Linked DNA regions of Homo sapiens: region 1 is linked to region 2. Evidence: fine-mapped expression QTL. A gene starts in region 2. The other region holds a variant in brackets. All regions are shown on one strand. Distances are between the middles of the regions.

What was found. PIP is the estimated chance that this variant, and not a neighbour inherited with it, causes the effect. A credible set is the group of variants that fine-mapping cannot tell apart.
Region 1: its variant is the best candidate, but not a certain one, in a credible set for the expression of ASB18 in putamen (GTEx, PIP 0.67).

What each region holds. Positions count from the first base shown.
Region 1 is chr2:236,235,509-236,238,416 of GRCh38, forward strand. It overlaps ASB18 (ankyrin repeat and SOCS box containing 18), which reads right to left. Exons shown (of 6, transcript NM_212556.4): 3 at 2,181-2,448. Among named protein-coding and RNA genes, the nearest start is that of ASB18, 27 kb to the right of the region's middle. The variant C/T (reference allele first, on the strand shown) is at 1,330.
Region 2 is chr2:236,262,743-236,265,650 of GRCh38, forward strand. ASB18 (ankyrin repeat and SOCS box containing 18) reads right to left here and starts at 1,664. Exons shown (of 6, transcript NM_212556.4): 1 at 1,399-1,664. The coding sequence starts at 1,603.

The sequences.
Region 1 (2,908 bases), 27 kb before region 2:
GCTCAACATCGCTAGTTACCAGGGAAATGAAAATCAAAACTATAACAAGACATGTGTACACACCTATTAGAATGTATACAATTAAGCCCTGACCATACCATGTATTGGTGAGGCTGTAAAGCAACTGGAACATGCAGACATCGCTGGTGCGGATGTAAAATGGTACAACTTTCAAAACTAGTTGGGCCATTTATTAGTTATTGTTATTATTATTTGAGACAGGGTCTCAACTCTGTCACCCAGGCTGGAGTGCAGTGGCGTGAACATGGCTTACTCCTGTGCTCAAGCGATCCTCCCACCTCAGCCCCCTGAGTAGCTGGGATTACAGGTGCATGCCAACATGCCTGGGTAATTTTTGTATTTTTTGTAGAGATGGGGTTTTGCCGTGTTGCCCAGGCTGGTCTTGAACTCCCGGACTCAAGTGATCTGCCTGTCTCAGCCTCCCAAAGTGTTGGGATTACCGGCATGAGCCACCGCACCTAGCCTAACAGTTATGTTCTTAATCATACCGTGTGACCTAGGTATTTATTCAAAATGCATAAAAGCATATGCCCATTCAAAGGCTGGCACACAAATGTGCATGATAACTTTGTTTGTAAAAGACCCAGACTGGAAACAATCAAATGTCTCCCAACATCTGAATGGATGAACATAACATACTGTGGTTCATCCATACCACGGACCGCTACCCAGGAATAAAAGGAATGAACTACGGACACACACAGCAACACAGATGAATCTTAAAATAATTATGTCGAGCGAGAGAAGCCAGATAAAAGACTGCAGATTCCATTTATACAAAATTCTAGAAAATTCAGACTAAGCCAAGTAATAGAAAGCAGATGCTAGGGATGGAGAGTGAGAAAGGGGCCAGTGGGAGGGAGAACCGTGGGCACCGTGAGGCCACAGGGGGAATGATAAATATCTGCCCTCCATGGACTGCGGGGTGTTGCACGAGTGTATAAGTCTGCGGAATTTATCAAATTGTACGCCTTAAACACGTGCCGCTTGCTGAATGTCAATCACACCTCGGTAAAGCTGCTTTTAAAGAGCATTGCTAGAACCTTGTTTCCTTCCTCTTTCTCAAGACTGGCGGGGGTCCACGTGGCCCCCTGATCCCCCCTCTGAACTCAAATGACCTTTCTTAGGTGGGTCCCCTGCCTGAGTCCCTGAATGCCCAGCAGTCCCGCCTGCCTGCGTTGCTGCCCCTGCTGGGCAGGACATCCAGGCAACTTTGACAGTCGGTGGAGAAGCAGCAAGGGCGATGCGGTTTCTGAGAGAGCCGCGCGGGTTCCCAGCACTAAACGTGGGCGACTTTCCTTAATCTTC[C/T]CCCAGAGACAGAAGGCCATGCAATGACAACTCCAAGGGCAGGGGCTGGAGCATTTTGACTAACAGAAAAGTCAGGATGACACAATGCAAGCCGAGAAACCCCACACGAGTCCTGTGCAAAGACAGGTGGCCCCGCTGCCTTTCCGAGACCCGGAGCACACGCTGGGAGGGCGCTCTCTGGGGACGGGGGCTGCGGGACCCCCAGACCCCGCGCCCGGGCGCGAACTAGCTGAGCGGCCGCTGGGCCTCCCTAGAGGCCGGCACAGCTCCGCTTCCGAGCGGGCCTGGAAGCCCCGCCCGAGGAGCTAACCATTTATGTCACACTGTGACAATTATTCTGCATAAAATTATCATTAAAAACCCTAATTTTTCAGCCTCCAACCCCGCCAGTGGCCTTTTAGCATCCCCGGCGCCGGCGGCTGGGCTGTGATCACCGCGCTCATTACCTCGGCGTGGCGCCTCCCGCGCGCGCTCGCAATCAAGCGCTAATTAAACCCGCGGGGGCCGGGGCCGGGGCGCGGGGCGGGGGCCGGGGCCGGGGCGCGGGGCGGGGGCCGGGGCCGGGGCGCGGGGCGGGGGCCGGGGCCGGGGCGCGGGGCGAGGGCCGGGAGGTGCCAGGTCTGGGGTCCCGGGTCAGGGATCTTGGATCTGGGTCCCGAGGCAGGGGCCGGGGTAGGGACGGGGCGGATGCGGGTCTGGGGATCCAGTGGGCAGAGTCAAGGGTGCAGGGTCTGGGTCCGGAGGCGGGGGCTGGGACGGAGGCGGAGGCGGGGTCGGCGGTCTCGTGGGGGGAGGCGGGCGTCTGGTCTCGGGGCGGGGCGGACGCCGCGGGCCTGTCCCGAGGTCCTTACCCGAGCGAGGCGGCCGTGCGGCAGAGGTGCAGAGGCGCCAGGCCCTCGGCGCTGAGCAGGTCGGGGTCGGCGCGGTGCTGCAGCAGCAGGCGGACGCAGGCGGTGTGGCCCCCGAGGCAGGCCTCGTGCAGGGCGCCGCGGCCGCCGGGGCTGGCGTCTGGGTCTGCGCCGCGGCCGAGCAGGTGTCGCACGCAGGCGGTGTGGCCGTGGGCCGCGGCGATGCACAGGGGCGTGGTGAGCTCACGCTTGTACTCCAGGGTCCAGAGGCCTGCGGGGAGGGAGGTGGGATGTAAGGTCAGGGGGAGGTTAGTTGTGGTGGTGGTGGGCGGTGTTCCTTAAGGCGGAAAGAAAGTGAAGCCGTCTCTTAAAGGTAGGTACCAGGTAGGCATGTAGGGAGAAGAGGATAGAATCAGAGACGCACACAGAGACAGAGAGCAGAGAGACACACTGGGAAGAGACAGGCGTAGACAGAGGAAGAAATACAAAGGAGAGATTGAAGGCTAAAACCGAGCTAGAGAGATGGGGCGCCGGGTATTGAGAAGCAAGAGGATTTTGCCAAATACGGGGGTGACTGGGAAATGGGGTCAGTTAAAAGCTGTCCAAGCAGGGTGCACGGTAGGCGAATTTAAGTGAGGAATTCACGTGTTCCAGGCCCTGAGTTAGGGCAGCTTGAAAGAGGAAAGTGGGTTGTGGAATTTTCCCGAATCCAGCACTCCCTTAGCTGAGCT
Region 2 (2,908 bases):
GGGATCATGGCTCCTGGGCCTATGGACCCCCGCCAGATATTAGGAAAACCAAGGTGAAGAGGAAGCAAGAGAAGGTTCCTCCCTAAAGCGACTTGCTTAAGTCCCCACTGAAAGGCAGCCCAGAAAGTAGACCCAAACCAAGGGGGGGGGGCGGACCCCCTCGGAAGTTCCAATCTCAGACTCCTCGCCTCAGCACCCTGCAAGCTCCATTCCCTAGCAGCAACTCCCACTCATGTCCCATCTGTGTTCCTCCTGCATGTTGCGCACACGTGTGCATGTGATGCATGTACTTGCGTGTGCGTGTGTGCACCTATGTTGGGAGGGAGAATGGGGGTGGAAAGGAGCCCTCAGCATCCCTTAGAGGCCAAGACTAACCTTGTCCCCTAATCTGACAAGCTGGGAAACAGCACAATACAACTAAAAGTAAATCACAGGTCAGGAAAACACTTTCAGGAAACCTAACAAAGGGATGATGTCTATGTTACGTGAAGAAGTCCTACAAAATGATAAAAATGATTCCAAGAGATGGAGAGTTCCTGCCCAAGACCCAAATAGACAGGTCTTGCACCTGATGAGGCCTACAAAGAAAAAATCCTATGGACAAGACTTTGTCCAGACCTGCAAAGAAAGGATGGGCGACAGGCAGTGAAGAATTACCAGTGTGTGCTTATCAAATGGCAATTTAATACAAACATTCATTACCAGTGATGCTCCTTGGTGAGGTTGTGGTGAAACACATCACCTCACTGTCAGAGGGAACAGAAACCCTTGCGGAAAACAATTTGGAACCAATTTAGAAACAATACAATTTGAAAAAATGTTATGTTCTTGTTCCAGTTATATGGCTCCTAGGAATTTATGGTAAGGATATAATCCCAAAAAAGAAAAAAGCCGTATGAATCCTAATAAAGATGTTCGTTACAGCATTATTTATAGAAGCAAAAAGGTAACCAAATACTATCTTTTTGTAGGCATTTGGTTTAAGTATTTCAGTAGGGGATTGAAATTGGGAAGACTATGTAGCAACATGGAAAATGCTTTAGATTTAGATTTTGTAGATCTCAAGGGAGCAGAACACACAATTATGTGTATGATATGGTTATCAGTGGGTGAAATTTACACACGCAAATGGACAGGCTTGGAAAACAATGGAGCCACAGAGCAGCCACTGTGGTAGGATTAGTTTTTTTGTGTTGTGTTGCACTTGTTGCTTATGTCGCACACGCATGTACATGGTCTATGCAGTACACATATATGCATGTATGTATGAGAGTCAGATATCCGAGTACATATCATTTACTTTTTCCAAACATTTGCCCCTCTACCTCCAGGATCTGCCCACCCCATCAGTGTAACTTAGTAATTAAATCCCAGATGCAGCAGGCTCGTTCTGGTTACCTAGCAGCATGCCGGTGGGCAGCTGAGCCGAGGGGTCTTTCATCCAGTCGTCATTGGCCAGTTCTATCACAGCGTCCACAGGCGTGATTTCAGTGCAGATTAAATCCCTCACTCTCTCCTCATCTTTGGCATCCAGGGCAGACTTTAATCTCTTCACTAAATCTGAGTTGAGTGGGTAGTCGGGAAGGTAATCCGAGTTGGACATTGTTACGTCGTTTCTGCAGTGACCAGCCCTTCTTTTCTTCCTCTAAAGCGACTCCAAAGTCAGCAGCTGTCCGTGAGAGTGGCGTGGGGGCTGCTATAAATAGCAGCACCCTGGCTCCTCTTACAGTCCCTGCGGAGGGCCACCTGCCAGCAGGGAGGTGTGAAGTAATCTTTCCAGAGGCCTCAGCAAAGGATTATTCTAGAGATGGGGGCAGCAGACATGTTTGTGAGTGGTGCAAGAAGGAGAGACAATATTTTCAAAGACAGCTTTCATGGGTATTGTTGAATAATATCTTCTTTTATCAAAAGTGAGGCTCTCTCCTGAAACTTTGAAAACCTCTTCCTGGCACTGGGCTTGGACCTCTATTCTGTGGAAAGGAACATTTTCTAATATTCTACCCCTTGTGTTCCTTCACTTCCTCTAAAAGGAGCGTCTGGTCACCTGCAAATTGGACATGCCTCAAACGCATAGAATGGAATGGAATCTTTGGTTTCCAAATGCAGAGAAGGACTGGCTGATCTCAGGAAGACGGAAGCATCACAGAAAAACAAAAAAAAGTAACCTAAATATTACCTGTGACCTCCCTATGCCTCAAGGCTGGTAAACTTTGCTCAAAGCCTATAATTCCATGACTTGTGGAAGTGTGGAGCCCTCAGGGGGATTTCTGTGCACTCCTAGGGGCAAAGGTGGGGCTTTCTCTCCTTGACCTGTGTCTTCAGTGTGCTTGGGTCTCTGTGTGCCAACCTGTGCATAAGCACAGCTGTGCCTGAAGCTTCTCTGCTGATGCCAAGTGTGCTGTGGTCTCTGAGGGCCCAGGGCGGGCCGTGGAGCTTACAGGGCCTCCTTCGCCTTGCCTTCTATCTCGCCATCTTTTCCATTCCTTACTTTCTTTCTTCTCCCCTGTGCTTAATTTTATGTCTCAATTTGGCTAGGACCCCAGTGCCCAGAGACTTGGCCCAACACTAGTCTAGATGTTTCTATGAAGGTGTTTTTGGGATCAGATTAGAATTTCTTGAACCGGCAGACTTGGAGTGAAGCCGATGGCTCTCCCTAATGTGTGTGGGCCTCCATCAATCAGTTGAACGTCTGAATAGAACAAAAGACTGACTTTCCCTGAGCAAGAAGGAATTCTGGCGGCAGACAGCCTTTGGTCTCAACCTCAGGTCTTCCCTGGGTCTCCAGCCTATCAGCCCACCCTGCTGATGATGGATTTACCAAGTCTGCACAATAGTATGAGCCAATTCTTGAAGAGAAATTCTCTCTCTCTCCCTACATAACTGTTGGTTCTGTTCCTCTGGAGAACAC